Homo sapiens: one gene and its partners. The main gene of each other region encodes a partner of the protein of the gene in region 4 in a complex. Each region holds a gene or a part of one and is shown on either strand. Other genes may lie near its edges.

Region 1 (7,022 bases), on a different chromosome or scaffold from region 4:
AGCAGGAGCAGGGACTACAGAGGCTGGAGCCACAGCCAAGCCATGGACTGCGGGTGGCCCAGCAGCCCCTGTTGGGGGGATAGGCTGGGAGCCTGGGGGCAGGGCTGGTGGTGGCTGCTGCTGCTGTTGGTGCATCTGTTGGAAGTGCTGCTGCCGAGCCCTCATCTCCGCATACTTCAGCTGCTCCATGTGGAAGGCTTGTCTGTCGGCCAGGAGCTGCTGCCTCTGATACTCCAGCTGCCAGTGCCAATTGAGTATTGTTATCCAATTTTCAGCAGATCCCAAAGGCAAATGCCTCAACCCCTGCTTTGTCTTCTTCTGAAAGAGCCTGCCTCTCAATCAGAAGGTTCCCAAAATCTACATCTTGTGCTTGTGCTCCCTCTGTCCTCCCCACCCGACTTCGTGCAAATTCCCATGACCTTTATGTCTCCTGAGTGCCCACATGGTTTCTTATTGCAATGACTTTAACCTGGCCCAAGCTCACTTCAGCTACAAAGCTTTGAACTTGCCATTACCTTGATTTGGAAAATGCTTCCAGTTCCTTTTGTCAATTCAAGTTCTTTTCTTACTTCAAAATTCACTAAAAAGTCACTGTTCTTAGGAAGCTATCCCAGATCAATTCATTTGCCTCTGAGCTTTAGCTTTATTCTATGATCTCAGGACTTAGAAACTTGATGTGCAATCTCTTTATTTTTTTGAGACTGAGTCTCACTCTGTCACCCAGGCTGGAGTACAGTAGCGTGATCTCAGCTCACTGCAACCTCCGCCTCCCCGGTTCAAGCAATTCTCCTGCCTCAGCCTCCCGAGTAGCTGGGATTACAGGTGTGTGCCAGCATGCCGGGCTAATTTTTTGTATTTTTTTATTCTTTAGTAGAGACGGGGTTTCACCATGTTAGCCAGGATGGTCTCGATCTCCTTGATCTCGTGATCCACCTGCCTCAGCCTCCCAAAGTGCTGGAATTACAGGTGTGAGCCACCGCGCCCGGCTGATGTGCAATCTCTTAATGTGAATTTGTCAGATACTTTAAACCTTCTTAACTGTTTCTGATGTCTCCATATTGTATATTCATTTGATGTCTCCCATTAAACCTTAAGTTCTCTGAGGTCCCTATCTTCTATTTCTTTTTCTTCTTTTTTTTTTTTTTGAGATAGGGTCTCACTCTGTCACCCAGGCTGGAATGCAATGGGGCAAACATGGCTCAGTGCAGCCTTGACCTCCTGGGCTCAAACGATCCTCCCACCTCAGCTTCCTGAGTAGCTGGGACCACAGGCTCGCACCACCACGCCCGGCTAATTTGTTTATTTTTAAAAAATGTTTGGGCTGGGCACGGTGGCTCATGCCTGAAATCCCAGCGCTTTGGGAGGCTGAGGTGGGCGGATCACCTGAGGTCAGGAGTTTGAGACCAGCCTGGCCAACATGGTGAAACCCTGTCTCTACTAAAAATACAAAAATTAGCTGGTCATGGTGGCATGTGCCTGTAATCCCAGCTACTCGGGAGGTGAGGCAGGAGAATCGCTTGAACCCAGGAGGCGGAGGTTGCAGTGAGCCGTGATTGCACCACTGCACTCCAGCCTGGGCGAAAGAGTAAGACTCCATCTCAAAAAAAAAAAAAAAAGCGTGATGACTCACCTGTAATCCGGCACTTTGGGAAGCAGAGATGGGCTGATCACCTGAGATCGGGAGTTCGAGACCAGCCTGACCAACATAGAGAAACCCCATCTCTACTAAAAATACAAAATTAGCTGGGCATGGTGGCACATGCCTGTAATCCCAGCTACTGGGGAGGCTGAGGCAGGAGAATCGCTTCCCAGGAGGCGGACGTTGTGGTGAGCGAAGATCACACCATTGCACTCCAGCCTGGGCAACAAGAGCGAAACTCTGTCTCAAATAAATAAATAAATAAATAAATAAAATAAATTGTTGAGACAGAGATCTCACTATGTTACCCAGGCTGGTCTTGAACTCCTGGGCTCAAGTGATCCATCTGCCTCAGTGTACCAAAGTACTAGGATTACAAATGTGGGCCACTGTGCCCAGTCCCTATTGTCTATTTCTTTTTATGTCCTCCAAAGACAAAATGGTTCAACACTGTGTCGGTCCCATTCCCTTTCCAAGTTCACCTCCTGGATCTGAGGCTCTTACCCTCTCTCTCATCATCCGTTACGCCCATTCACTCAATCACTATTTGAGTCTACTATGGGCCAAGCACTGTTCAAGGACCTGGAGATGCAGCAATCAAAACAACCAACTAGAGTCCCTGCCTCATGGAGCTGACCTTCTGTGGGACTTCAGTCCCCAGACTTCACTTGTGAGACCACTTAACTGTCTCTAACTGGCTGCCCTACTCCTGCCCTGTTCCTGCCCTGCTCTGCTTTGAAGCCCTGTCTGTCTCAGGCTTTCCCCACTGTTGCTTATCTTTCACTGAAACACACACACACACACACACACTCAGGCTTTCCCCACTGTTGCTTATCTCTCTTTCACTGAAACACACACACACACACACACACACACACACACACACACACACACACACGCCCCTCCGATTTTAAACTGAGGCACAGCGCAGCAGGGTTCCAGGGCTCCTGCTACTCACTGCTTCTCGCTCCCGGTCCATGATAGTCTCCAGCTCCTCAAAGTGCCGAAGTTTGATCTCCAACTTTTTCATCTGGGTCTCCACCAGCAGGGCCACCAAAGATTTGATCTTCCTTTCCTCAACAGCAGCCAAGTGCTAGGGAAGGAGGGGCGAGACAGCACATCAGTGGGAGGACCCAACTGAAGACAATACAGAAGAAAGGTAGGGTGGATGCTGGCAGGTATAAGAACAAATTTGCTGTGGTCACAACCCATGGTGAAAGGGCTTGACTTTTTTGTGCTGGGATTATAGGCGTGAGCCACCGTGTCTTTTTTCTTTTTTCTTTTTTTTTTTTTGGGACAGTCTCACTCTGTTGCCCAGGCTGGAGTACAGTGGCATGATCTCAGCTCACTGTAACCTCTACCTCCTGGGTTCAAGCAATTCTCGTGCCTTTGCCTCCCCAGTACCTGGGATTACAGACATGCGCCACCACGCCGGCTAATTTCTGTGTTTTTAGTAGAGATGGGGTTTCACCATGTTGGCCAGGCTGGTCTCAAACTTACAACCTCAGGTGATCCACCTGCCTCAGCCTCCCAAAGTCCTGGGATTACACGCGTGAGCCACTGCGCCCAGCCTTTTTAAAAAATTAAATTATTTTGGCCAGGTGTGATGGCTCATGCCTGTAATCCCAGCGCTTTGGGAGGCTAAGGCGAGCAGATCACTTGAGTCCAGGAGTTTGAGACCAGCCTGGGGCAACAGGGTGAAACCCCATCTCTGCTAAAAATACAAAAATTAACCGGGCATGCTGGCACGTGCCTGTAATCCTAGCTACTTGGGAGGCTGAGGTGGGAGAATCGCTTGAACCTGGGAGGTGGAGGTTGCAGTGAGCCGAGATTGTGCCACTGCACTCCAGCCTGGGCAACAGAGTGAGACTCCATCTCAAAAAATACATAAATAAATAAACAAGCATGGAGGCTGGGCACGGTGGCTCACGCCTGTAATTCCAGCAGTTTGGGAGGCCAAAGCGGGTGGATCACCTGAGGTTAGGAGTTCAAGACCAGCCTGGCCAACATGGTGAAACCCCATCTCTACTAAAAATACAAAGAGTTAGCCAGGCGTGGTGTAGCACGCCTGTAGTCCCAGCTACTCGGGAGGCTGAGGCAGGAGAATCACTTGAACTTGGGAGGTGGAGGCTGCAGTGAGCCGAGATCTGACAGAGCAAGACTCCGTCTCAAAAGAAGAACATGGAGATAGTGTGGCAAAGGGTAACATGGAGTCAAATACTGACAGGGTTGAAAACAGGCCCAATGGTGATATATTTTTTAAAGCTTAGAGAAGGGATGACTAACTTTACCTCCTCCTGAGATAAAAATAAAAAATAAATAGGTCAGCATTATTTAAGGTGTGAGTGAGGAAAGATTTCCTCTAAGTGAGATGAGATTAGAGAAGTGGACATTTTCTTCCCTGAGGTCTTCAAGGTCTGGCCTCACCTTAGCTTTCACTGCGGCGGCGGCCAGGGCGGCGGCAGCAGCGGTGGAGAGGTTGCCCTCGCCAATGTCCCGCTCCACCTTTGTCTTCCTTTCCCCCTCAGACTCCACCACTTCCTTCAGCACTTCCTCCTGCCCTTCCTTTGGCTCCTTCTCCTTCTCAGGATCGACTGGGCCAGGACAAGGGTTGAGTTAGCCCCACAGCTTCACCTCTGTCCTGCACCCCCACCTACCCTTGTGGGAGGCTCACCTATTGGGTCTCCATCACTCTTCTCGGACTCCTTCTCACTGTCGCCTTCTTTCCCTTTCTCCTCATCCTTCTTGGGAGCCTCGCTGGTTTTCTCTTTTGCTTCCTCCTCTATAGCACCCCCTCCTTCTCGGGGTTCCTGAAATTCCAGTGATAGAAAAGGAGAGTTATCAGGGATTAGGGTGATTAGTTCTCACACAGAGGGGCCAGACGGGGAACTAAATTTATTCCTCTTACTTTGGAGGTGATCTGATTCTAGGAGACAACCCCGTCCAAAACCAGCCCTTGCCCACCTAAGCTGAACAAGGCCAACTTCCCCATCACCACAGTGCTGCACGCAGCCCCTGCAGCTTCCAGAAATCCCTCTATACCTTGGGCTCCTTCTTCTCATCTGTGGCCTGGCCTTCCACCCGAGCCTCGTCATTCCCGCTCTCCTCTGGGCCCATGAGAAAAGAAAGAAAACAGGAAATGTTTAATACACAGTCGTCTGTGTCTAACACTTTTCTTTTTTTTTAGAGACAGGGTCTTGCTGTGTTGCCCAGGTTGGTCTCAAACTCCTGGGCCCACGCAATCCTCCCACCTCAGCCTCCTGAGCAGCTTGGACTATGGGTGTGAGCCGTTGCACCCAGCTTCTCCATAACACCTGTTTTTTTTTGTTTTTTGTTTTTTTGTGACAGGGTCTCACTCTTGTCGCCCAGGCTGGAGTGCAGTAGCACAATCATGGCTCACTGCAGCCTTGACTTCCCAGGCTCAAGTGGTTCTCTCACCTCAGCCTCCTGTGTATCTGGGGCTACAGGCGCATGCCACCATGCCTGGCTAACTTTTTTGGTATTTTTTGTAGAGACGGGATTTTGCCATGTTGCCCAGACTGGTCTCAAACCATCTGCCCACCTCAGCCTCCCAAAGTACTGGGATTACAGGCATGAGCCACTGCACCCAGCCTTCACAAGACTTTTTTTTTTTTTTTTTTTTTTTTGAGAGACGAAGTCTTGCTCTGTTGCCCAGGCTGGAGTGCAGTGGCTTGATCTTGGCTCACTGCAACCTCTGGCACCCAGGTTTAAGTGATTCTCCTGCCTCAGCCTCTGAAGTAGCTGGGATTACAGGCACGTGCCACCACGCCCAGCTAATTTTTGTATATTTAGTAGAGACAGGGTTTCAGCATCTTGGCCAGGCTGGTCTTGAACTCCCGACCTCGTGATCCACCCACCTCGGCCTCCCAAAGTGCTGAGATTACAGGCATGAGCCACTGCGCCCGGCCTTCACAAGACTTTTCTAACAGCCCCTTCTACAAGCAAAGATTTTTCTACCCAAAATCTTCATGAGAGGACTAGTAGGGCTCCAGAGCCCCTGAGGTAAACTCATGGGGAAAATAAAAACCCTACCAATGTTCTCATTCATGTTGTGCTCTAATGCCAACTTGAGGCAGAAATGGCACAGGAGGCCAGGTAGCTCTGGATCTTGTGAAAGGCAAGAAATCTGGGAACCTGCCTGGCCTTACCAATCCGCTCAGGCTCATCAGAGGTGGTTCCTGCAATGCCACTGCTTTCCAGACCGAAGGCAGGGTCCGCCTTGCCTGTTACTTTGGCTGCTTCTTCCACTTTTCGAACATGGGCCTCCACCAAGGCCGTGGGTACCTCTTCCTTCATTTTGGAGAACTCCTCTGCAAGACCCAGAAAGAATGAGGCTGGGAGCGGCACAGTGGAACAGTTCTGGCAATCCCTGCAAAAGCTTACTCACAAGCCCATGTCTTCATCTAAGCTAGTATGGAGCCTAGACAGGTGCCTGAGCTGAGGCCCGCACAGACAAGGCCAGCAGGGCAGCCAAACTTGAGAGGATTCACAGTCTGAGTAACTAGCCCTTCAAAAGCAAACTAAGAAGGCCAGGTGGAACCACCCACCCCCATTACCTAGGGCTGACTTTGCAGCAGCAGAGGCGACTCGGGGATCGACGACAGAGGCCAGGAAGGCAACAGTGCTCATAACAGGGTTGCCCGACTGACTGAAGGGGATGGGTTGGTAGGCCAGGGGGCCTAGGGAGGCCTCTGAGTCCTCCAGGTATGGGTCTTCAATGGGAAGACGAAGAAAATGCAAGATGCACTCGTCCTGTGTGCGGCTTCCCACATGCTCGGACACTTTGTTCCAGTCATCTTTGTACATTTCCAGTGCCTGGTGGTAGTGGTGGAGACATAACTCCGCTTACTTAGCCACTTTTCTCGAAGGCTGACTCCCCCCATCCTACTAAGGGCAGCTGGTTTCAAAGTTCTCTATGTTCTGGTATTTGTGTACTCTGCTAGGTCCAAGGGGGATCTTGAAGTAGCACTAAGAAAGGATATGAAGTTAATGAAATGGCCCAAATCCCCAGCCTGGAGCTGGTCCTGAAGCTCACTGGAGCCTTGACCTCCTAGGCTCAAGCAATCCTCCCACTTAGCCTCCTGAGTAGCTGGGACCACAGGTGTGTGCCACCACACCTGGCTAATTTTTAAAATTTTTCGTAGAGACGGAGTCTCACTATGTTGCCCAGGTTCATCTCGAACTCCTGGACTCAAGTGATCCTCCTGCCTTGGCCTCCCAAAGTGCTGGGATTACAGGCGTGAGCCTCTACACGGAGCCCACTTCTGTTTTCAGAGAAAAACTCTCTTTTCTTTGCCCCAATTACCTCCAGGAGAAGCAGGGTTTCCTGTTCTGTCCACTCACGAGTGGCACTGGCTGCAGC
Region 2 (7,274 bases), on a different chromosome or scaffold from region 4:
CATCCCATCACCCCAGCTAATTGAATTATTGAATGTCCCACGTGGAAAAAGCTAGTACAGTGAAAAATAGCCCATACTCAGCGTAGGCAGAGCCCTGCATAGGTGCTGCTGGAAATCTGAGCTTGTTTCTTCCCAACACATTAACTACCACCACTTTATCCCCCCATCCTGAGGAAACCTTTGTGTGACCATTTTCTGTAGGAGACGTCCGTGGTGTTGGCTTTTTTTTTTTTGGAGGGAAGAGAGAGACTCAGAACGCACACAGAGAAAATGCTAATGTCGTTCAGCTCTGTTTCATTGTCAGGAGGGACACATGAGGATAAAAACATAGCTCTCCAAACCATTCTCCCCGCTACCCCTCCTCCCTGCACCACCACCATCCCTTCGGCTGGATGTGTCTCTGCACTTTGTTCTAATTTATCCCATGCATAATTTATTCACGTGTGTATTGTTTCCTGATCAGCAACTTTTAAAAACAAATGAAATATATAAGATGTTTTATTAAACAAGTTATTTTTAAAAAAATAAAGGCAGATGGTGTCCCTCTCCCAATAACAACGTGTGTGCTCCTGCGTTAGGAGTTGTCAAAAACTGTCCAGGGTGTGAGAGGCTGGGCTGGTCAGTGGTATTGTTTATACCCCTTTACTCACAGGGAAAGGGTCTGGGAAGCAGAAAGGAATAGCTAATTATAAATGACCAAGCAACTCCCACCTAGAAAAAGCAAGCAGGGGCGTTGTGTGTATGCTAGTGTCTGCATGTGGGTGGCAACACAATTACAAATACATCACGTTGCAACTGTTTCTAATTATACAAAGTACAATTCAGAACTAATTCCACTAACCGGCCAGAATTCCGCCACCTTCTTTCCCGCGTCTGTCCCTTCCCCCACCCTTAACCCCACCCTACACAGACTCCCTCCCCAAACACGCACCCTACTGTGATCCAAAAAACCCTGGAGCGAGTAGGGGAACACAAGCTTAGAGATACTGCGCCCGCCCGCGCGAAAGCGGGCTCCCGGGTAACTAGGGTACGGCTTTCCCAGGAGGAAACAAACCTGGTGCACATGTGAAATAGGTTCTCTAACTTGAGTTTACCAGGTGGCATCAGCCCGGTTATGTGATTTCGGCTGGAAATGGGGAAACTGAAAATCAGTTGTGGGTTCGGTAGAAACAGCATCAGCGGTGTTGCAGCGAAAGCAACCGGCAGCGAGGATGCGGCGAAGTTACGCCCATTTATTCTGCCATAAAACATTTTCTTTCTTGGGTGAAACGCTGTGGCGTTCAAGCGCAGTGTATCCGAGCTTCCGAGCCAGAACTGAAGCCAGGAGCTCCTATCTGATCAGCCTCAGCTTCCAACGTCCTCTTAACGGCAGCTTTCATATAAATATATTTGAAACCTGGGGCCTTCCTACCCCTTTCCCTATTTCTGATGGGCGACGAGCTGGCGCAAACACGTCCGATTCTCCCTGTGCATTCCTTTGCGTTAGGAACCCCCTACCGTCCCCGGGAGCGAACCTGGTTTTCAACTCCAGGAGTGGCCAGGGGTGAAGACGAGAATGCGCTGAATTAAAAGAACCAGGGTCGACAGCGGCCACGCACCAGGGAGAATTCGGCATGAACCGCCCCCCACCCGACCTGCACCTCCCTCTGCCACTTCGCCTGCGGCTTCGTCCGGGCGGGGAAGTCCCGGTCGAAGGGGTGAGGACCCCCCAGCCCACCTCGGATACGGAGGGAGCCACCCTCTGCCGACATCACCCAATAGCACCCCTTTCAGAGCGACACTAGTTTTCCGAGGCCACCCCTGGCTCCGCGATCGCGAGCGGACTTGGCGGCTTAACAGTTCCACTGACTGGAAGGAAGGAAGGAAGGAAGGAAGGAAGGAAGGAAGGAAGGAAGGAAGGAAGGAAGGAAGGAAGGAAGGAAGGAAGGAAGGATGAAAAGGAGGAGGAAGGCAGGCAGGCAGAAATTGGCTGTTGGACCCGGGGCTGGCCCCCGCGAGTCCTCGCCCGGCCCGCCCCACTCTGTCCAGGATCTGGGCAAGCGCTCAAAGTCTCCCCGAGGCGGCCAGAGGCACCTGCCCCTCGCCCGGCCGGGAGCAGACGCTGCCCCCTCGGGCCAGGAGCCCCAAAACCGCCTCTCCGCCTGCCTCAGCGCCTCACCCAGAGGTGGCGAGAACACCATTCATAAGACCTGCGGCTTCCCTGCCTCCAAATCCACCCCAAGTTAACCCGAGTCGTTAATCCACTAAAGCCAGCTCGCTCGCAAATACACGAGCAGACACACGCTCGATCGCCCGGAGCGCCTCCGAGATCCGGGGGCTGCCGGGGAAAGCCCGGGGCGACCACCTGGGCCCCAGCACGCCCGGGACCCGCTGCTTCCCCCGCGGTGCTCCAACTCCGGAAGGTTTGCACAAACTCCCCGCGAGCGATCGGAAGGCGAAGAGCGCCCTGCAAACTCCGGAGCCTCCGCGGTCCGTCCGCTGGACCCAGCGGACCCAGCGGCGGGGCGGGGGCCGCGGGCTCGGGGGCGCGGGGCTCGGCCAAGTACACCGAGGCGGCCACTGCCCGACGCTCGCCCCCCGCCCAGCAGCCCCCGAAGCCGCGCTCCCTGCCCGCGAGGCGGGGGACTCCGGGGACCGCGCCGTCCCCGAGCTCCCGCGACCCTCCTGCTGTAGAGCGCTCGAGCGCCGGGCTTCTCCGCCTGCAACCCCTATATCTGGCTCTCTCTGCAATTTAGCAGAACACAAATGTAACAATTTTCTTCTTGTTAATTGCATCTCCTGACATTTCTGCGCGTTGGGGGAAAAAAAGAAGATGAAGAAGTAAGAGCTGAAAGAAGAGAGAAGCCCCGCCGCGGCTGGAGGCGCCTGCAAGCGCAATGCTCTGGCAGCGCTCGCCACGCAGAAGGCGCCTTTTTTTTCATATTGAAACCACGCGGAATATGTACATTTTTTAGTCTTACTTACGCTTTCAGGGGGTTGTGAATGACAGTCGCCATTTTGCTACAATGTAACAGAATATTGTCTCAGAGTTCTAAAGGTTCGCTCAGGGGAAGCGACGGGCCAATCACAGCGCGGGATACCGGCCCGCCGGCCAATCGGCGCTGCTGGTAGCTAGGTGGGCGGGGCCTGCGCCGTGGTAGTTATTAGGAGAGCTGTCAAAGCCCAGAGGTCACTCCCTTTTGTAGAGCCCGAGAGCCAGCAGGTCTTAAAGGGGCAGTACAGCGCTGGTAGCTCCTTTTCGGGCTGGGGAAAGTGGAGACGCACGGGAGAGTATTATAGTTTGGTTTAACTCCCTACTTTTCTAAATAACTGCAGAAGAGTTTGCGCTCCCGGACAGAAATATTTAAATATTGCCAGCAAGCCACTGAATCCTATTCATTAGCCTTTGGCTTTGCGTATCAACATTTTTAATCCCCCAAAGGGTAAATCCCCGTGTTTCAGTGCAAAAGTTGGAAGGCTGCCGTTTCGTGTTAACAAATTACTACATGTGCTCTGCCGTTTGCTAATGCTCTGGGTCCTGCCGCTTTTTAATATTCTTATTCCCGAAGTGTTCTCTTTATCTCGGCCACCTTCCTCTCTCGCTTCTTGGAACTGTCGCTGCTGTTCCTGGCGACTCCAGGACAGCAACTCACCCTCCCCCTGGAACGTCTCAATGTCAGGCTCGCTCCCTCCTGCAGCCAGGGCTTTCCTTACGTAGTGCAGGGGGGTTACTCTGCGCGGTTCCCCGCTACCACCCCTTCGGTTCTTCCCTCTACACCAGAAACTTCCAAAATGCTCAGATTCCTGCTAGGTGGTGGGACCTGGAGCTCTGATCTTTAGGCTTAGGGGTAGGGAGGACTTAAGGCAACCTTTGGAAACTTTCTACTGCTAGGAAGCAAGTGACTAGGCAGAAGTTGTAGAGCCTGGACTGGGTGTTATCAGGGTCCCTTTAGAGGAGTGGCACACGCGATTCTGGCGTCACCTTTCACTACTTAGATAGAAGGTGGAAAGAATTTGCTAATGAATAATCCGATGTGACCCGAGGCGTCCAATGAGTCTGTGTCTGCTTCAAGTCAGTGTGAACTCTTCACTGGCGAGCCCCTGACAAAATTGGGAGACTTCTGCGAAGTCAGGCTTCCACTGGGCACCGGGAAGCTCTGGGGGGATGAAATCGCATTAAATCGCGAATAGGGTAGGGGCCTCGTTAGCATACAGAAGTCTGGCTACCATTCCAAAGCTGTTTAATCAGATCAAATAGCTAAGATAGTGGGGGAGGGGTGGCAAGGGGAGAGAAGTTGCCAAATTGCCAGTTCTTCAAAGCTATGCCCTCTCGCTTCCTTTTGCTCCTCTCAAGACAATGAATAAAATAAAATAAACATTCCAGAATTTTAAGAGTTCAACTACATACACTATTAGATTTACAGATAAACAGAACGTGGCTGAATCACTATGTTTTTAAAAGATTTGAAATCTTTAACTCCTCTCTGCGTATTTAAGAAGCAGAATTGAGTTCTATAGATTCCTTTGTAAATCCTTTGCATAGCATCTTGGCAGAGATTACAGTTTGAAAAAGTTATCTCCTTTTCCAAAATTGAAGTTTGAAAAATCCCTTCTTTACTAATTTGACAAGAAATTGGTTCAGAAGCCTATACTTTGCCTGAGGTGGGCCTTGACATCATTGAAAAGCAAGAACTGTATTCTGACCCAAGAAGTATGAGTTTGAATTATCAGTTAGAACTCCCAATAACCTCTTTGAGGTATCAAAGACACAACAATTCAGATTAGTAGACGACAACGTATTTTCTTACATGCAGCCTGATAAAGGAGGAAATGTAGAGCATGTCCTGAACAAGATTTACAATGGGGGAAGAGAGAAAAAACAAATGTATATTACATATTAAAGAAAACACATACTCTAAGCATGTACATATCATTTATTGTGTTAAGGCCTGGATGCAGAAACCAGCATAATCTCTAACTACCTAACGAACTTGAAAATGTCAGATCAGATTTATTGATTGGATTGGAAAATAGTGAATTAAAGACAGTACTTTAAAAAAAAAAAAAGGATAGCCTTGCTTTTTGTAACCCAATGGAATGTCATTTTAACTCTATCAATACAGTTATGACTTTTAAAGAAACACTTATATTTAACAAAAGAGTTATTTTACTTTAATGTTTACATTATAGATCAAAATATAAAGATTTCTTTTTTTTTTTTTTTTTAACCAGAAGGTTCAAAAGCAAAGAGTAGGCATGTTTAAAGAGGACAGTATCCTTAAACAGTTTTGGAGAAGTTTGGCAGTTCTGGGGCAATTTCATAGTGCTGTACATGGCAGAAGTATGAGCTCTGGAATCTACCAGCCTGAGTCCACTATTTACCAGCTGGGTTACCTTGGGCATATTTACTTGCCAGGATTAAATGAGGTAATACATGTCAAGTGTCTGACACACAGCAAGCTTTCAATCCATGTTATTATTTCTTACAGAGATAATTAATTCTTTCCTTACGGCATATGGAATGTAGGGAATCCAAAAAACAAGGCACAACAGAAAGTGAAATTAGCCATCACATTTAGTTTTCTAAACTCATTAATCCAAGAAAAATGAGCAAATGGACAACTTGGATTAGAATAAAATAATAAATAAGAATGATGTTTCAATGAGGGGTCACATAACTATATAACCCTAAAAAAGGCTTCTTGCTGATTGTGATACCAAAACACTTTTTAAATTTTTTTTTTTTTTCTGAGACGGAGTTTCACTCTTGTTGCCCAGGCTGGAGTGCAGTGGTGTGATCTCAGCTCACTGCAACCTCCACCTCCCGGGTTCAAGCGATTCTCCTGCCTCAGCCTCCCGAGTAGCTGGGATTACAGGTGCCCACCACCACGTCCAGCTAATTTTTTGTATTTTTAGTAGAGACAGGGTTTCACCACGTTGGCCAGGCTGGCCAGGCTGGTCTCGAACTTCTGAATTCAGGTGATCCACCCATCTCAGCCTCCCAAAGCCCTGGAGTTTTTTGTCGTTGTTGTTATTGTTTTCAGACAGGGTCTTGCTCTGTTGCTCAGGCTGGAGTGCAGTGGTGCAAACACAGCTCAACATAACTCACTGCAGCCTCAAACTCTTGGGGTCAAGTGATCCTCCCACTTCAACCTCCCAAGTAGCTGAGACCACAGGACAAACCACCATACTCAGTTCATTTTTTAATTTTTTGTAGAGACCAGGTAACACTATGTTGCCCAGACTGATCTCAAACTCCTGGACTCATATGATCCTCCCACCTCAGCCTCCAAAAGTTCTGGGATCACAGGCATGAACTACCGCACCCATAGCCTAAAATCCCATTTCTAAAGCTCCATAGCTATTCATATATTTGAATACACTTCATTGTATTCTATCCCTTTTATCTTGATTTAGCTAGTTAGGCAGCTTAATTTGGAGAGCAGAGTGGCCCCAGAATAATCACCTCCACATCTCACCTGGAGAATGTTGAGCTTCACTGTCCAATATAGGAGCCATGGGCCACAGGTGACTACTGAGCACTTGAAATGTGGCTACTCCCAATTGAGATGCGCTGTAAGTATAAAACAATGCACCTGATTTCAAAGACTTAGGACAAATAGAAGGTAAAATATCTCATTATAATTTTTACATTGATCATTTGTTGAAATGATATTTTGGATTTACTGGATTAAAGAAAATATGTTATGAAGACTAATTTCACCTATTTCTTTTTACTTTTTTTTAATGTGGCCACTAGGAAATTTTAAATTGTACATGTGGATGGCATTGTATTTTTATTGTACAGTGTTGCACTGTACAATAAAATGAAGAGATCTGCCTTTTTGCACTGTACAATAAAAACATATAAGAAGTGTGTGTCACCAGGGAAAGAAGTGTGGGGACCATTCTCAACCATATTAACTCACCCTTGATGTCAGTGAGTGAAACTCCCTGGCCCAGCTCAAGTATTTGTTGAATGCCATCCGTTTGAAGGAACACTGGGCACAACCAAGGACCCAAGAACCTAAGCCAAAAGGACATCCATCTCTCTTTTTCTTAATTATTTATTTTATTTTTTGAGGCTGGAGTACAGTGATCCGATCTCGGCTTACCACAACCTTTGCCTCCCGGGTTCAAGCGATTCTCCTGTCTCAGCCTCCCAAGTAGCTGGGATTACAGGCACCTGCCACCACGCCCAGCTAATTTTTGTATTTTTAGTAGAGACAGGGTTTCACCATGTTGGCCAGGCTGGTGTCGAACTGCTGACCTCAGGTGATCCACCCACCTCGGCC
Region 3 (7,363 bases), on a different chromosome or scaffold from region 4:
CCAATCATAGTAGCAACAGAACCCTGAAGAAGCAGCCTAGAACACATAGAGGGTCACTGTTTTACCCATCTCATTTGCCCAAGGGAAATGAGGCAAGTTAAGCAAACCATTGCACATAACTAAGCGAGTTTGAACAGAGAAAAGTCTGACTCTAGAGGGGAAATGAATCACAGGCAATAAGCAGCCAGAACAAAAACAGCTTTATTTGGACAGAATGACACCACCAGCAGATGGACCGGACCTATATAGAGAAGGAGGCTCTGACACTGAGCCCTGGTTCTCCTGCAAAAGTGCATTCCAACTAGCTTGCCTGCGAGCAGCTAAAAATAAGAGCCAGAGAATGTAAGGGAATGAGAGAAAGGTGAGCTTCCCCGAGGAGCTTCTGGGGTGGGAAGTTTGGGGACTATCACCTGTCAGCTGATGCTCCCCAGGAAGCAACAAAGAGCCTGTCAAGAGAAATCTATCCTACTTAAACTGTGGGGTGCCTCCAGTGAAAGTTGAGAAGATGGAGATACCACAAGGACTCAGAGAGGAAACACAGCCTCAAATTAAGTGCAAACTCGATTAAAAAAAAAAAACTAAATAATCTACAGATATGGCTAAATCCAATGGCCAGCAGCACCAAGAGGAAGGTAAACCACAAATCAGATCCCAGGACAATAAGGTTCTCCATATGATACCAGTGAGGGCCAAAGGTGTGGGGGCAAACACAAAGGACCACTGTCTTTCAGTGCAGGGAACAGTGTCCCTCTCCTTACTGCTCCCAAAAGGAGCTGTGAGCACCAGTTAGGCTTCCTGCTGACCAGACAACACTGTTCATTCCCAGCAGCTCCCACCCTAGATGCCAACCATTGTGGACCTTGAACTCACATCCTCCAGGAGCCGTCCTTCTACCCGAAGCTCCCAGGAAGCCACCGTCCCTTCCCCATCCTCGGCATCTGACTTAGCCGGATTGAAAGTGTTAGAAATGAAAATTCGCAGCTTCCGTTTTTGCTGAGGAAGGCAGAAACAGGATTGATCGTGGGGCTTCAGTGGTCTGATGTTGAAGACAACGGTCTCCCCAAACCCCAAAATTACTCCTAACAGACTGGCTTACTGTCTACCCAGTCCCTTGGGTGGGTGGATGAAGATTCCATTTAGAAGAGGAGTACTGGCCATCAGCCTAAGTACAAGTGCATATAGTGGGATGCCAGGTGGACAAAGTCATGCAAGGTGCCAGGTTCCCAAGGTAGCAGAGCAGTTACAGCGAAAACATGGACAAGGGTATATTTGTAGTGCAAGAGACATCAAGAGCCCCTCCCCCTTTGCCATTCTGTTCTTATCCTCCTAATGTAATTCTCAGTTTGTAGGCGGAAGGGAGAGATGCAATTTAAATGCCAAGGAGAGTTGTGCTGTGCCTTTGATTTCTCATCCTAATTCTGCTGAAGGTTCCTGGGTCCTCTCCTTTGGCTCTCTGCCTAGTACTTTCCTGTGTTACCTTGATGGGACGTTTCAAGGCCTCTTGGATATCTAGCCGTTTCCTCATGATAGTCTGGTCCAGTTTCCTTTCAAAAGCCAAGAGATCCATATAGGCCTGGGATTCTGGTACCAGTTCACGAATCTTAGGAACAGAAAAATTAATTGAAATCTAGGATGATCATCTCTATACTCAAACTCACCACACTTTCCAGAAGACATATAGCCTGGACTCACCCTTTGAGGTAGAATTTTGTCAGCCATCTTCTTTTTCTTTGCACTGTTGGGAATAAATACTATTATCAGGTTGGGACAGAACTAGTCAGAACGTGAAAATAAGCTGTCAGCACGTCCATTTATAGTAATGTGAAGGGACTGCAAAGCTTCTCTCAAAGAACTACCACCACCACCACCACCACCAAGCATTCTCAAGGATGAGTTCTGTAGCACCATCTGCTGACACAGCACCACCACTTCTTGGTTCAGGTACTCCCACCACCTGTGTCCTCCCAGGCTCCCTCCCTCCCTCCCTCTGCCCCAGGATCATCTTACTTGTGGTTTCGATTTTGGACCGCCTGCTGCTGGACCTGCTGGATCTGCTGAGGGGCAGGTCTCTTGCGGGACTGATCCATCCCTGACTGGGCCAGGCCAGGTCGGACTGAAGGGTTCCCCCCATAGCCAGGGGGTCCCATGGAAGGTCCCTGAGGTGTCATTCGGCTGCCTGGCAACATACCTGGTCTCTACAGAGGGGAGAGGACCCAGAGATGTCATGGTTTCACCTGCTAAACCCCATCAAGAAAGAAAAGCAGGGAACGCCTGAGATCTTTGAATGAAGTAAGGTTTAGGGATGGAATGGAGGACAATGAGAGGAGAACCCTTTGCTCCAGTAGTGACTCCATAGAAAAACAGAGTCCAAAAGCTAAGCGAGAGCCAGATTATACTCAAATTCTCAGTCTATTTTGGATGGGACACATCGGACATCGCCAGTTCCACATTTACTCTGCTAGCTACTATCTCTTTAGAAGCTGACCTCAATTTGTCAGCTACACGTTCTGTGTTCCTCTGATCACTGGAGCTGCTCAAGCCCCTTTGCACTCCGGCCCTCATACAGGTATCCCTGGACCCACTTCACCCACCCAGGTTCTCTACCGACTCCCCAGGGAAACAATGCCCCTAGGAGCAGGTGTGTAACTGCCTCCCCCTCTCTTTCTGCGCACTGCCTCCCCCAACCCCCACCCAGAGCCCGAACCCCTCCCAAGGGAGTCCCTCCTACTTCTCCCCCCACCCCTGTCACTCCCATGTCCCCGCTCGGCCCCGCCCCCGGCCCGCGCGCCCCTCCTCCTGCCCCACTCACCGGATAGGCCGCTCCGGGCATCGGGGAGCGGTACAGCCCTTGACCCGGAGCCGGGCCCATTCGCACAGGAGGCCCCGGAGTTCCGCCCGGGCCCAAGGCAGCAGCCGCGCCCGCCCCTCCTGAGGCTCCGGCGCCGCCGCTTGGAGCCACAGACTGGAAACCCGCCCGGGCCGCCATCTTCCCGGAGCCGCCGATGCAGCCGCACAAAGAACCGGAACCGGAACTCCCCCCGCCCCCCGAGCGCCCCCCGAGCGCCCGCCTGTTCCCCCGGCCGGCCGGCCGGCACGGGAGGCTCAGGGCAGCGAGACTATGGGATAGAGCGGGGCGACTAGCGGAAAAGGCGTGCTGGCCACGCCCTCCCGCCTTCACGGTCCGGGAGGGAAAACCATAGAGAAGAGCTCTGCAATAGAGAGGCCGCGTGAGCGGGCGCCCCCAGGCCGACGGGAGGAAGACAAGGACCTGGAAAGGGGGACGGACCACAGCCTCAGCCCCAGTCTCAACCCCAACTCGAGCCCTCTGATGAAGAGGGGCTTGGAGTAATAGCTTCATCTTGGCGCATGGCGTTAACTTTCCAAAACGCTTTGACTGCTTTTCGTTTCGTTTTCTTACTGCTATAACTATCAGGGGCTGAGGAGGGAAACACAGTTTATTCCATTTTACAAATGGGAAAGCTGAACTCACAGGTGAATGACTTGGCAAAGGTCAACCAGCAAGTTAGCCATAAAGCCGAAGCCAAGATTCCAGATACCCTTGCTCATAGCCCGGGACTCATTCCACAGATAAAGTGCCTCAATAAGTACCTCACGTGGGAACTTCATCCTAACTTTCTCTCTGACCTAACCTGCTTCCGGATTATTATTTTTTATTTTTTATTTTTTTTTAGATGAGGTCTGTCTCTCTCTCGCCCAAGCTGGAGTGCAGTGGCACCATCTCAGCTCACTGCAACCTCCGCCTCCCAGGCTCAAGTGATCCTCCCAACTCAGCCTACCAAGTAGCTGGGACCACAGGCATGCACCACCATGCCAGACTGTTTTGTATTTTTGGTAGGGATGGGGTTTCGCCATGTTGCCCAGGTTGGTCTCGAACTCCTGAGCTCAAGCGATCTGTGCTCCTCAGCCTCCCAAAATGCTGGGATTACAGGTGTGAGCCATTGTGCCTGGCCTCAGATTTTTTTTTTTTTAAATATTAAAAAATAGGGATGGGGGGCTGGGCACGGTGGCTCATGCCTGTAATCCCAGCACTTGGGAGGCCCAGGCGGGTGGATCATGAGGTCAGGAGATCGAGACCATCCTGGCTAACACGGTGAAACCCCGTCTCTACTAAAAACACAAAAAAATTAGCCGGGCGTGGTGGCGGGCGCCTGTAGTCCCAGCTACTCGGGAGGCTGAGGCAGGGGAATGGTGTGAACCCGGGAGGCGGAGCTTGCAGTGAGCCGAGATCGCGCCACTGCACTCCAGCCTGGGCGACAGAGCGAGACTCCATCTCAAAAAAGAAAAAAAAAATAGGGATGGGGGTTTCACTATGTTGCATAGGCTGATCTCGAACTCCTGGCCGCAAGTGATCCACCTGTCTCAGCCTCCCAAAGTGTTGGGATTACGGGCATGAGCCACCGTGCCAGCCTGCTTCCAGATTTTATGATAAGTTCCAGTTTATCTTGAATTTTGACTCTGCTCTCTCTCTCTAAAGCATCCTTTGTATTGGGGATTCTGTTTTGGAACTTTGTTGCCTTTGACTTCTCCCTCTTTCCCTGCCCAGTGGTTCAAACTATTCCTGATATAATGGTCAGCCTGTCCCATCCCAGGGGGACCACAGTGTCCCTACTCAAACCTTCTCCTTACTCATCCCCTAATTGGCCCCAAACCAAGCTCAGCTTTAGGCACTTAGTGAGAATATCTAAATACTTTTTCAAATAAGAGAACAACACTGAAGAGGAGATGGTTGAAACCCAGTTTATTAGACCAGAGGCATGCGTCACCCAGAGCCCTGCCTGCTGTTCCCCTATCCAATGCACACTTTTTGGCCTCATTCCTGCTTCCCTCTGGGGAGGTATGATCTCTGAGGAAACTCTTAGGAACCAAGAGATTCCAAAGATCCTACAGCCTTACTCTCCAGCTCCAGGCCAATGCAGCTGCTCACAGGTCCTGTTCTGGGATTGAAGACCAAGACACAGCTAGGGAAGGAAGGCCTGAAGAGGGGTTGGGGCTCAGGCCTGGAAGGAGTGTCTGGTGGAGGGAGGGGGGGCAGGCCCTCCACCTCACTTGTCTCTCATTAAGATAGGGTGAGACAACAGCAGAGCTTTCAACTCCTCCTCTAGGCCTCTCTTTCCTCCCAAACCCACCTCACCAGAAAATAAAAGTGGTGGGCTTGGGTATCAGGTGAGGAAAGGGGGCTGGGCACCCAGAAGGAGGAAAGGCCACTGACTGAGGACCTCAGCTTCTGCCTGTCAGCATCCCACTGCCCCAACTTCAGGAGTCGCCAATCCCCAGCTCCCTTCTGTCTCTGACACACTTGGCTTAGTGTCCAGGGTAGACCTCCATCCCCTGGGTGGGGGCTATCTCTACAGCAACCCCTTCCCTGGGGATGCCACTGTCAGCTGGGCAGAGGGCAATGGGATAGGAGGAGCAGGGGAAGAGAATGTTAAGGCTGCAGGGAGGGCCGAGGGTGCCCGGGTTGGGGGAGAGGGTGAGGCCAGAAAGAGGCAGAGCTTGTGATTCACAGCTTCCTTTGTCGCCACTGAGACAGTGCAAAGGTTACAATGCGCGTGTCGTCTCCTTGTGCTTCTCAGAGGGATGTGTGTACACAGTACAGACACCAGGGGAGAGAGTCCAACTCTTTATACAGGCGAAGGCATTCAGAGACCAGGGAGGGAGTAGAAACATAGAAGGTGGAACTTGGGGTGGGAGAATGGTTCTCAGAGACAAGAGGGGATGGGGTGGAGACAGACAGGGCTGGGAAAGTATATACAGAGATATAGCAATATAGAGTCTGTATCATATAGAAATAGAAAATGCAGATGAGGTTGTTGAGAGAAGCAAATGAAGTTGGGGAAGAGGATGTGGGAGAGTTCCATAAGAAAATTTATGGACGTGGCCCTCTACAAGGGCCTCCGGGAGAGGGACCAGTGAGGTTAGGCACTAGCGCCCTTCTCCCTGAGCTGGACGCTAACCAGCCCGGTCTTTAATGGGATGGTGAGGAAGGGCTGCCTCTTGGGATTTCTCTCCAGCAGCTGTGGGGTGGGGGTGAACTTATAGGTATCAGGATGTAGCCTACAGCACCAGGGCCGCATCTTGTCCCCATTACCACTTCTTAAGGGGATCCCCGACCCCCACGAGATTCCACATGGTGTGAGAGAGTGGGGCTGAGGTTTTAGTTCCTGCCAGGAGACTTGGGTTTGGGGACAGTCACTGGGCTGAGAGGGTCTCTTAAGGCTGGGGAAGCCTCCCTCCCCCACACTAGCCCTCCCCCTTAAGGTACATTCTCTGGTTTGGGGCCAAATTCCAGACCCCAGAGATCCCTTCCACCCCTCACTGGGAAGGGCCTTTGGTGACTGGTGGCAGCAGAATGTAGATGGACACTCAGATGGCAGACAGCTAGATAGACAGAATTCAGGCTGGGAGCTAGGGGAGGCAGCATGGAGGAGAGAGGGGCAGCCTGAGGTCCCTTGCCCCGTTCTCCCTTTTTAGTTCTTTTTTAGATTAGTTTTGTTAAATGTAAAAAGAATGGGATAGAGGCAGAGAGAGGACTCTATGGTCAAGACTCCTTCCTTACCACAGACAAGAGGAAAGATCTGCCCCGGAGTGTGGGGAGTCCCCAGGGCAGATGTGAGGAGGCAGCTGGGGGCCCCCTCGCTCTCCTAGTCCTCCCCATCTAGGCCTTTGGTTCAGCGGCCTGCGGGGCTCAGCAGGTAAAGTCCTCGAACGTGCCTCGGGCCGGATGGTGAGGTAGGATGTTGGCAGCGTATGTCATCCCGGCAGGGTGGCCCCGAAGGCTCTCGCACGGGTTCTGGGGGAAGGGGACAGGACAGGGACGGGTTATCCCTCGGAAGGGCTTCAGGTAGTGCTGGGGCATTCGGGAGGCAAAGGAGAGAAGGTGGTGGCAGAGGCGGGTGGGCGGGGGTGGACGGGGTTCCTGGGGCGGTGGAGGCACAGGCGGGCTGGAGGGCGCCCTCGCTCGCTCCCTCACGTGTCTTTTGACGTCGTCCAGGCTGAGGGCCACGCCCTTGTCCGCACTGCTCCTTTTGGCCTCCTTCTGGCATTTTCCTCGTCGGCACAGCTTGTGCTTAATGACCTAGGACGGGGACGGGGCAGGTGGGCGGGCTGGACCCCGCCCCCACGTGGCCCCGTGCCGGGCCTCGCCCCCGCTTACCTCGTAGGCGTAGTCAAAGAGCTCCAGCACCGTGAGGATGCTGGCCCCGATGAACAGCCCCATCTGGCCCCCGATGTCACCTGCGGGGGCAGGCGCCAGGGGGGTCAGTGGGGTCAGGACATCGTGGGGGCAGCAGGGTTTACTGGGACTGGGGCAGGCAAGTTGTATTCTCAAAGGGATTGGTAGCCT
Region 4 (7,022 bases):
TATTTTTAGTAGACTAGGTTTCTCCATGTTGGTCAGGATGGTCTCAAACTCCCGACCTCAGGTGATCCACCCGCCTCAGCCTCCCAAAATGCTGGGATTACAGGCGTGAGCCACCGTGCCTGGCCCACACTCCGTTTCTCTACACTCTCACACAGCACTTTTGACACCAACTCAGAGAAAACCAGTTTTCTTCTACTATACTCTCATAACCGAGAACAATTCTGTGACCAGATGCGTGGGTCTTTTCCAAGTAATTCTCCAAGTCTCCAAACACCAGCTGGGTGTCCTACAATTTAACTCAATTCAGACTCTATCTCCCACAAGTTAAGGACTTTATCGGCCAGATGCAGTGGGCTCACCTAAGCACAGTGCTTTGGGAGGCCAAAGTGGGAGGACTGCTTGAGGCCAAGAGTTTGAAACCAGCCTAGGAAGTATAGCACCCTGTCTCTACAAAAAATTTAAAAATTAGCTAAGCCTGGCAGTGGTGCACACCTGTAGTCCCAGCTACTCGGGAGCATGACATGAGCCCAGGAGCTGGACACTGCAGTGAGCTATGACTGTATCACTGCACTCCAGCCTGGGTGAGAGTGACACTCTGTCTCTAAAAGAAAAAGAGCTGTCCCATAAGACTGCTCCCACTACAAATGCCATTTGCACATCCCAGGGTCCAGTACTTCTGCCCAGCCACCTATAAATTGGGAATTCCCACAACCCCCTCCTCGATTTGATTGATTTGCTAAAGCAGCGCCCAGAACTAAGGCAGGCACTTCACTTCCCATTAATGGTTTATTATAACGGATACGACTCGGGGTCAACCAGATGGAAGCAATACAGACAGCTTCAATGGCCCCTCCGTACATGCCACCCTCTAAGCACTTGGTCTTTCTGGTAACCAGCCCCATCCTGGGCTATCTAGGAGCCCCATCCTAAATCACCTCATAAGCATAAACTCAGCTGTGATCAAAAGGGGCTCATTATGAATTTTAAAAGACACACCTATCACTCCTATGACATGTGGCGCAAAGACCAAATATATTCCATATCATACCTCAGAGGGCAAGTGGGTGCGGCCACAGGTGGGGCATAGGGGAGAAGTCACAGGCCTTGAGGGCCACAGTAAAGGGGTTCCAGGAGCATCCAGTGCAGTGGGGAGCTGCTAGAATGTTCCAGGCACGGGAGTGGCACGGTCTGATAATGACTTTAATTTCTCTGGACATGCTGATGGAATGGATGTGCAAGTGAGGGCAAGAGATGAGGCAAGGGTGAACACCAGGGTCTCGGCTGGGACGTGCTGTTAGAAACATAAAAAGGGGGCCAGGTGCAGTGGCTCATGCCTGTAATCCCAGCACTTCGGGAGGCTGAGGCAGGTGGATCACCTGAGGTCAGGAGTTTGAGACCAGCCTGACCAACACGGAGAAACCCCGTCTCTACTAAAAATACAAAATTAGCCAGGTGTGGTGGTGCATGCCTGTAATCCCAGCTACTCGGGAGGCTGAGGCAGGAGAATCGCTTGAACCCAGGAGGCGGAGGTTTCAGTGAGCCGAGACCCCGCCATTGCACTCCAGCCTGGGCAACAAGAGACAAACTCTGTCTCAAAAAAAGAAAAAAAAAAGAAAGAAATATAAAAAGGCGCCAGGCGTGGTGGCTCACGCCCATAATCCCAGCACTTTGGGAGGCTGAAGTAGGCAGATCCTTTGAGCCAAGGGGTTCAAGACCAGCCTGGGAGATAACATCAAGACCTCCACTTCTAAGAAAGTAAAACCTAAAACATAAATTTTTAAATAAACATAACAAGGCCCCCCTTCCTCGAGGCTGACCAAGCCCTAGAGCAAGGCTTGGCAAAGACAGGCAGGGCCGGGGTTCAGCCCCTGGTTCTTGAGGTAGAGGGTGGAGGCCAGGGAGATTCTGAGAGGAAAACGGAATTCTGAGTTCAAAGAGGTTAAGCCATGCAGAACAGAATCCCGCCTCAAGTCTCTTTGACTCCAGGGCCTGAGTAACTGATTCAGGCCGAGGATCAAAAGGAATAGGATGAGAACCTTGAAGGTCGAGGAAGGGCAGAGTCAAGAGGAAGGGCAAGTAAAGAGCCACTCCCACAGGCACCCAGGAGATGCCTCCAGGAGGCAGGCAAGGCCTTCAGGTGCCCAGCCAGTCCAGGCTGTGCCAGAATCACATTTGATCATCACAGGGGCAGTTTCAGCTCCCTGGGCACAATGAGACATCCACTATGCCCCTTTACTGGGACTTTCGGAGCAAGATGGGTCGCACACAGCAGACCCTCCCCCTCAAGTCTCCCACTGGAACAGGTGAGCAGCAACTGTCACATCAGCCACCTGCTTCCTGAGCCACTGGGGCGTGACTTGCCAGTGGCAAAGAGAAAACTTAAAAAACTCCCAAGAGCTAGCACAGTGGATCACGCCTGTAATCACAGCTAGTCAGGAAGTGGAGGCTGGAGGATCACTTGAGTCCAGGAGTTAAAGACCAGCCTAAGTAACACAGCGAGTCTCCGTCTCTAAAAAAATAAAAAGTGGAAAGAAAAAAAAAACACCTCCTCAAAGAACCATTTTAAAGTCGATCACTATTAAAAACGGGGCCCGTGCTACTCTATCACACTCACAGCTGGCTGCACACAGAGCAAAACGGTTCACAGTGACAAGTGTCCACATACATAAATGAAGCTATGCCCCTTTAGGGAGGTAACAGAGTCCCCAAAAGCAAAGCTCTGGAAACCAGTCTGGGACTTAAAAAAACATTTGAGGCCAGGAGTGGTGGCTCATGCCTGTAATCTCAGCAGTTTGGAAGGCCAAGGCAGGCGGATCACCTGAGGTCAGAAGTTTGAGACCAGCCTGACCAACACGGAGAAACCCCGTCTCTACTAAAAATACAAAATTACTGGCCGGGCGCAGTGGCTCACGCCTGTAATCCCAGCACTTTGGGAGGCTGAGGCGGGCGGATCATGAGGTCAGGAGATCAAGACCATCCTGGCTAACATGGTGAAACCCCCGCAGGGCATGGTGGTGGGCGCCTGTAGTCTCAGCTACTCGGGAGGCTGAGGCAGGAGAATGGCATGAACCCGGGAGGCGGAGATTGCAGTGAGCCAAGATCGTGCCATTGCACTCCAGCCTGGGCAACTAAGCAAGACTCCGTCTCAAAAAAATAAATAAATAAATAAAAATTAAAAAAAAATACAAAATTAGCCGGGCATGGTGGCGCACGCCTGTAATCCCAGCTACTCAGGAGGCTGAGGTAGGAGAATTGCTTGAACCTGGAAGGCAGAGGTTGCAGTGAGCCGAGATCACACCGCTGCACTCCAGCCTGGGAGAAAAGAGTACAACTGTCTCCAAAAAAAAAAAAAAAAACCACACATTTGAAAGGGGCCAGGGTTGGTTTCCACCCTACTAACATTTACCTATTTTCTAAAGAAAGCCCCCTTCCAGTCGGGCGCAGTGGCTCACGCCTGTAATCCCAGCAGTTTGGGAGGCTGAGGCAGACGGATAACGAGGTCAGGAGATCAAGACCATCCTGGCTAACATGGTGAAACCCCGTCTCTACTAAAAATACAAAAAATTAGCCGGGCGTGGTGGCGGGCGCCTGTAGTCCCAGCTACTCAGGAGGCTGAGGCAGGAGAATGGCGTGAACCCGGAAGGGGGAGCTTGCAGTGAGCTGAGATCGTGCCACTGCACTCCAGCCTGGGCGACAGAGAGAGAGCAAGACTCCATTTCAAAAAATAAAATAAAATAAAATAAAATAAAAACAAGAAAGCCCCCTTCCCTGAGGGAATTGGAGGGAAATCAATGTGTCCCTTCTCTCTGCCCTGTAACAACAAACCCAGCTACACCTGGCACTTCCATCCAGGCCCTTTCCCATATATGAAGAAGAGTTGAGGCCACAAATCACATGCCCATCAATCCCACACCCTGAAAAATTAATGATTAATGTCCTTAGGATGCAGTTAACAGAAAACTTCAATCAAGAAATCACTGGGCATACTAATGAGTCCGCTATGTCTCCTTAGGGTTGACACCTATGAGGGTGGCAGCACCTGAAGCTCCATTCAGCCTCAGGCTTCATTCTGACCTGTTCCCTCTCATACCTTCCCCCAGTATTCCAGCAGCTGTTATCCTTCCCAACCCCCGGCTTTTTTTTTTTCTTTTGTAGAGACGTAGTCTTGCTCTGTCGCCCAGGCTGGAGTGCAGCGGCACGATCTCGGCTCCCTGCAACCTTGGCCTCCCGGGTTCAAGCAATTCTCCTGCCTCAGTCTCACAAGTAGCTAGGACTACAGGCGCACACCACCATGCCCAGCTAATTTCTTTTGTATTTTCGTAGAGACGGGGTTTCACAATGTTGCCCAGGCTGGTCTTGAACTCCTGAGCTCAGGCGATCCGCCCGCCTCGGCTCCCAAAGTGCTAGGAATACAGGCATGAGCCACCGCGCCCAGCCCAACCCCCGGCTTTTTTAAGATAGGGTCTTGTTGTGTCACCCAGGTTGGAGTGCAGTGGTGCGATCACAGCTTACTGCAGCCTCCACCTCCTCGGCTTGATCCTCCCACGTCAACCTCCCAAGTAGCTGGGACTACAGGTGTGCAACACCATGCTTGGCTAATTTTTTAACTTTTCTGTAGAGACGGGGTTTCGCCATGCTGCCCAGGCTGGTCTTGGATTCCTGGGATCAAGTGATTTGCCCTGCTGGGCCTCCCAAAGTGTGGGAATTACAGGCATGAGCCACCACACTCGGCTGAACATTTGATATTTTTAAAAACCTGGCCGGGCGCGGTAGCTCACGTCTGTAATCCCAGCACTTTGGGAGGCTGAGGCAGGTGGGTCACCTGAGGTCAGAAGTTCAAGACCAGCCTGGTCAACATGGTGAAACCCCGTTTCTACTAAATATACAAAAAATTAGCCAGGCATGGTGGCGGGCACCTGTAATCCCAGCTACTCGGGAGGCTGAGGCAGGAGAATTGCTTGAACTCTGCAGTCGGATGTTGCAGTGAGCCAGGACCGCATCATTGTGCTCCAGCCTGGGCAACAAGAGCGAAACTTCACCTCAAAAAAAAAAAAAAAAAAAAAAAAAAAAACCATGCCACTAAACACACTCTCCCTTTTCCAATGCCTTATGGTGAAATTTCAAAGCATGGTTTTCTTCACCACATAACATTTTGGTCAATGATGGACCAAATATACAATAGTCCCATAAGATTATACCTTCCTCCTTGAATTGTCTAATTAGAAAAATTTTTTAAAGATCATAATACTGTATTTTTCCCATACGTTTTCTGTTTAGATATATTTAGATACACAAATACTATCGGGTCACAACTGCCTACAATAATCGGTACAGTGACATGCTGTACAGGTGTATAGCCTGGGAACAATAGGCTATACCACAGAGCCTACATGTGGACTAGGCTCCACCATCTAGACGTGTGTAAGCACACTCTATCATCTTCACGCAACCACAAAATCATCTCACAACGCATTCCTCAGAATGCATCCCTGCTGTTAAACAATGTGCAGCCATTAAGGACAAAATGGAGGAGCTGACTCCTTTGCTACCACTTTGAAACATACAGAACTTATGACTAGAGGAAAAAGTATATTATCTGTGTCATCCCACCAGGCTGTTGCAGGAATCCTAATAAATGATGAGCACTAACAACTGTTTAGCACTATGTGCCAGGCACCATTCTAAGCACTTCGCATTTGTCACTGGTTGTTCAGCTCTTGCAGCAATCCTACAAGCTGGGTACTAGTACTGTCCCCCTTTGCAAGTCAAGAGTGGGGTGTGAGCTACTAAGAACAGGACCCTTGTCTGCCTGTTCCCCATGGAATCCCCAGCTCCCCAGCAGTGCCTGGCACATGGCAGGCGCTCAATGCATGCTTGTTCGCCACATAAATGGGGAAGAGTGGCTGGGTCATTTCTTGCACAACTCCAGGGGGCACTATTCACATTGTGTTCTGTCTACAGGCACCATGAATGGGTCCTTCTGTGCCATGGCAGCCTTGATGACCGAGGGATGGAAAGACAAAACCAGGAGTCAAACCCAGGTGGTTGACTTGACAACCCTTGTGGAAAGAAAATAACCCTAGGCCTCAGTTTCCTTACTGATAGAAAGTTCCACCAGACTGGCTGGGCACGGTGGCTCACGCCTATAATCCCAACACTTTGGGAGGCCGAGGTGGGCAGATTACAGGAGGCCAGGAGTTCGAGACCAGGAGTTCTGGCCAACATGGTGAAACCCGGTCTCTACTAAAATACAAAAATTAGCTGGGCATGGTGGTGCACGTCCTTAGTCCCATCCACTCCAGAGGCTGAGGCATGAGAATCGCTTGAGACCAGGAGGCGGAGGTTGCAGTGAGTCAAGATCGCACCACTGCACTCCAGCCTGGGCGACAGAATGACTCTGTCTCATAAGAAAAAAAAAAAAAGAGGCCGGGCGCGGTGGCTCATACTTGTAATCCCAGTACTTTGGGAGGCCAAGGGCCAAGGTGGGTGGATCAGTTGAGGTCAGGAGTTCAAGACCAGCTTGGCCAACATGATGAAATCCCATCTCTACTAAAAATACAAAACTTAGCCAGGTGTGGTGGTGCACACCTGTGATCCCAGCTACTCAGGAGGCTGAGTCAGAAGAATCGCTTGAACCCGGGAGGCAGAGGTTGCAGTGAGACGAGATCGTGCCATTGCACTCCAGCCTGGGCAACAAGAGTAAGATTCCGTCTCAAAAAAAAAAGAAAGAAAGAAAGAAAGTTCCACCAGACATCTGCCCAAAACCCTAGTCCCTCCCATGCTCCCACCTCCCACAAACAGCCAAAACATGGAATGGTCTAAGGTTATCTCCTGGTGTTTTGAGGGTTCCCAAGGAGAAGCAAAGGTACACAAATAAATTGTAAATAAATACACATATGTTGGAATGCTCCTCACTGACAAGAAGTTTAGAGACCACTGCACTGCCCTATATCACAATTCTGATGACATCACCTCCCCTGCTCAAAAGCCTGCACGATCAACATTTACGTCTCCTAAAGGGC

Evidence for each region.
Region 1: SMARCA4 (region 4) and SMARCC2 share a complex: the UniProt entries of both Homo sapiens proteins name them as parts of the BAF complex.
Region 2: SMARCA4 (region 4) and DPF3 share a complex: the UniProt entries of both Homo sapiens proteins name them as parts of the BAF complex.
Region 3: SMARCA4 (region 4) and SMARCD1 share a complex: the UniProt entries of both Homo sapiens proteins name them as parts of the BAF complex.

Annotation. Positions count from the first base shown.
Region 1 is NC_000012.12:56,165,463-56,172,484, forward strand, and holds part of SMARCC2 (SWI/SNF complex subunit SMARCC2), read right to left. Parts: coding exon 6,966-7,022; intron 6,476-6,965; coding exon 6,217-6,475; intron 5,971-6,216; coding exon 5,809-5,970; intron 4,747-5,808; coding exon 4,682-4,746; intron 4,450-4,681; coding exon 4,314-4,449; intron 4,234-4,313; coding exon 4,067-4,233; intron 2,733-4,066; coding exon 2,598-2,732; intron 238-2,597; coding exon 1-237. UniProt on the Homo sapiens protein: Involved in transcriptional activation and repression of select genes by chromatin remodeling (alteration of DNA-nucleosome topology).
Region 2 is NC_000014.9:72,891,093-72,898,366, forward strand, and holds the start of DPF3 (zinc finger protein DPF3), read right to left. Parts: upstream 3,010-7,274; 5' UTR 2,997-3,009; coding exon 2,965-2,996; intron 1,558-2,964; exon of another isoform or gene 1,252-1,557; coding exon of another isoform or gene 1,055-1,251; intron 1-1,054. UniProt on the Homo sapiens protein: Belongs to the neuron-specific chromatin remodeling complex (nBAF complex).
Region 3 is NC_000012.12:50,080,993-50,088,355, reverse strand, and holds the start of SMARCD1 (SWI/SNF-related matrix-associated actin-dependent regulator of chromatin subfamily D member 1), read right to left. Parts: upstream 3,015-7,363; 5' UTR 2,987-3,014; coding exon 2,810-2,986; intron 2,196-2,809; coding exon 2,008-2,195; intron 1,736-2,007; coding exon 1,693-1,735; intron 1,601-1,692; coding exon 1,478-1,600; intron 994-1,477; coding exon 871-993; intron 1-870. Other genes in the region: ASIC1 (acid-sensing ion channel 1), read right to left, coding at 6,707-6,811, 6,992-7,096, 7,175-7,254. UniProt on the Homo sapiens protein: Involved in transcriptional activation and repression of select genes by chromatin remodeling (alteration of DNA-nucleosome topology).
Region 4 is NC_000019.10:10,964,020-10,971,041, reverse strand, and holds part of SMARCA4 (SWI/SNF-related matrix-associated actin-dependent regulator of chromatin subfamily A member 4), read right to left. Parts: intron 1-7,022. UniProt on the Homo sapiens protein: ATPase involved in transcriptional activation and repression of select genes by chromatin remodeling (alteration of DNA-nucleosome topology).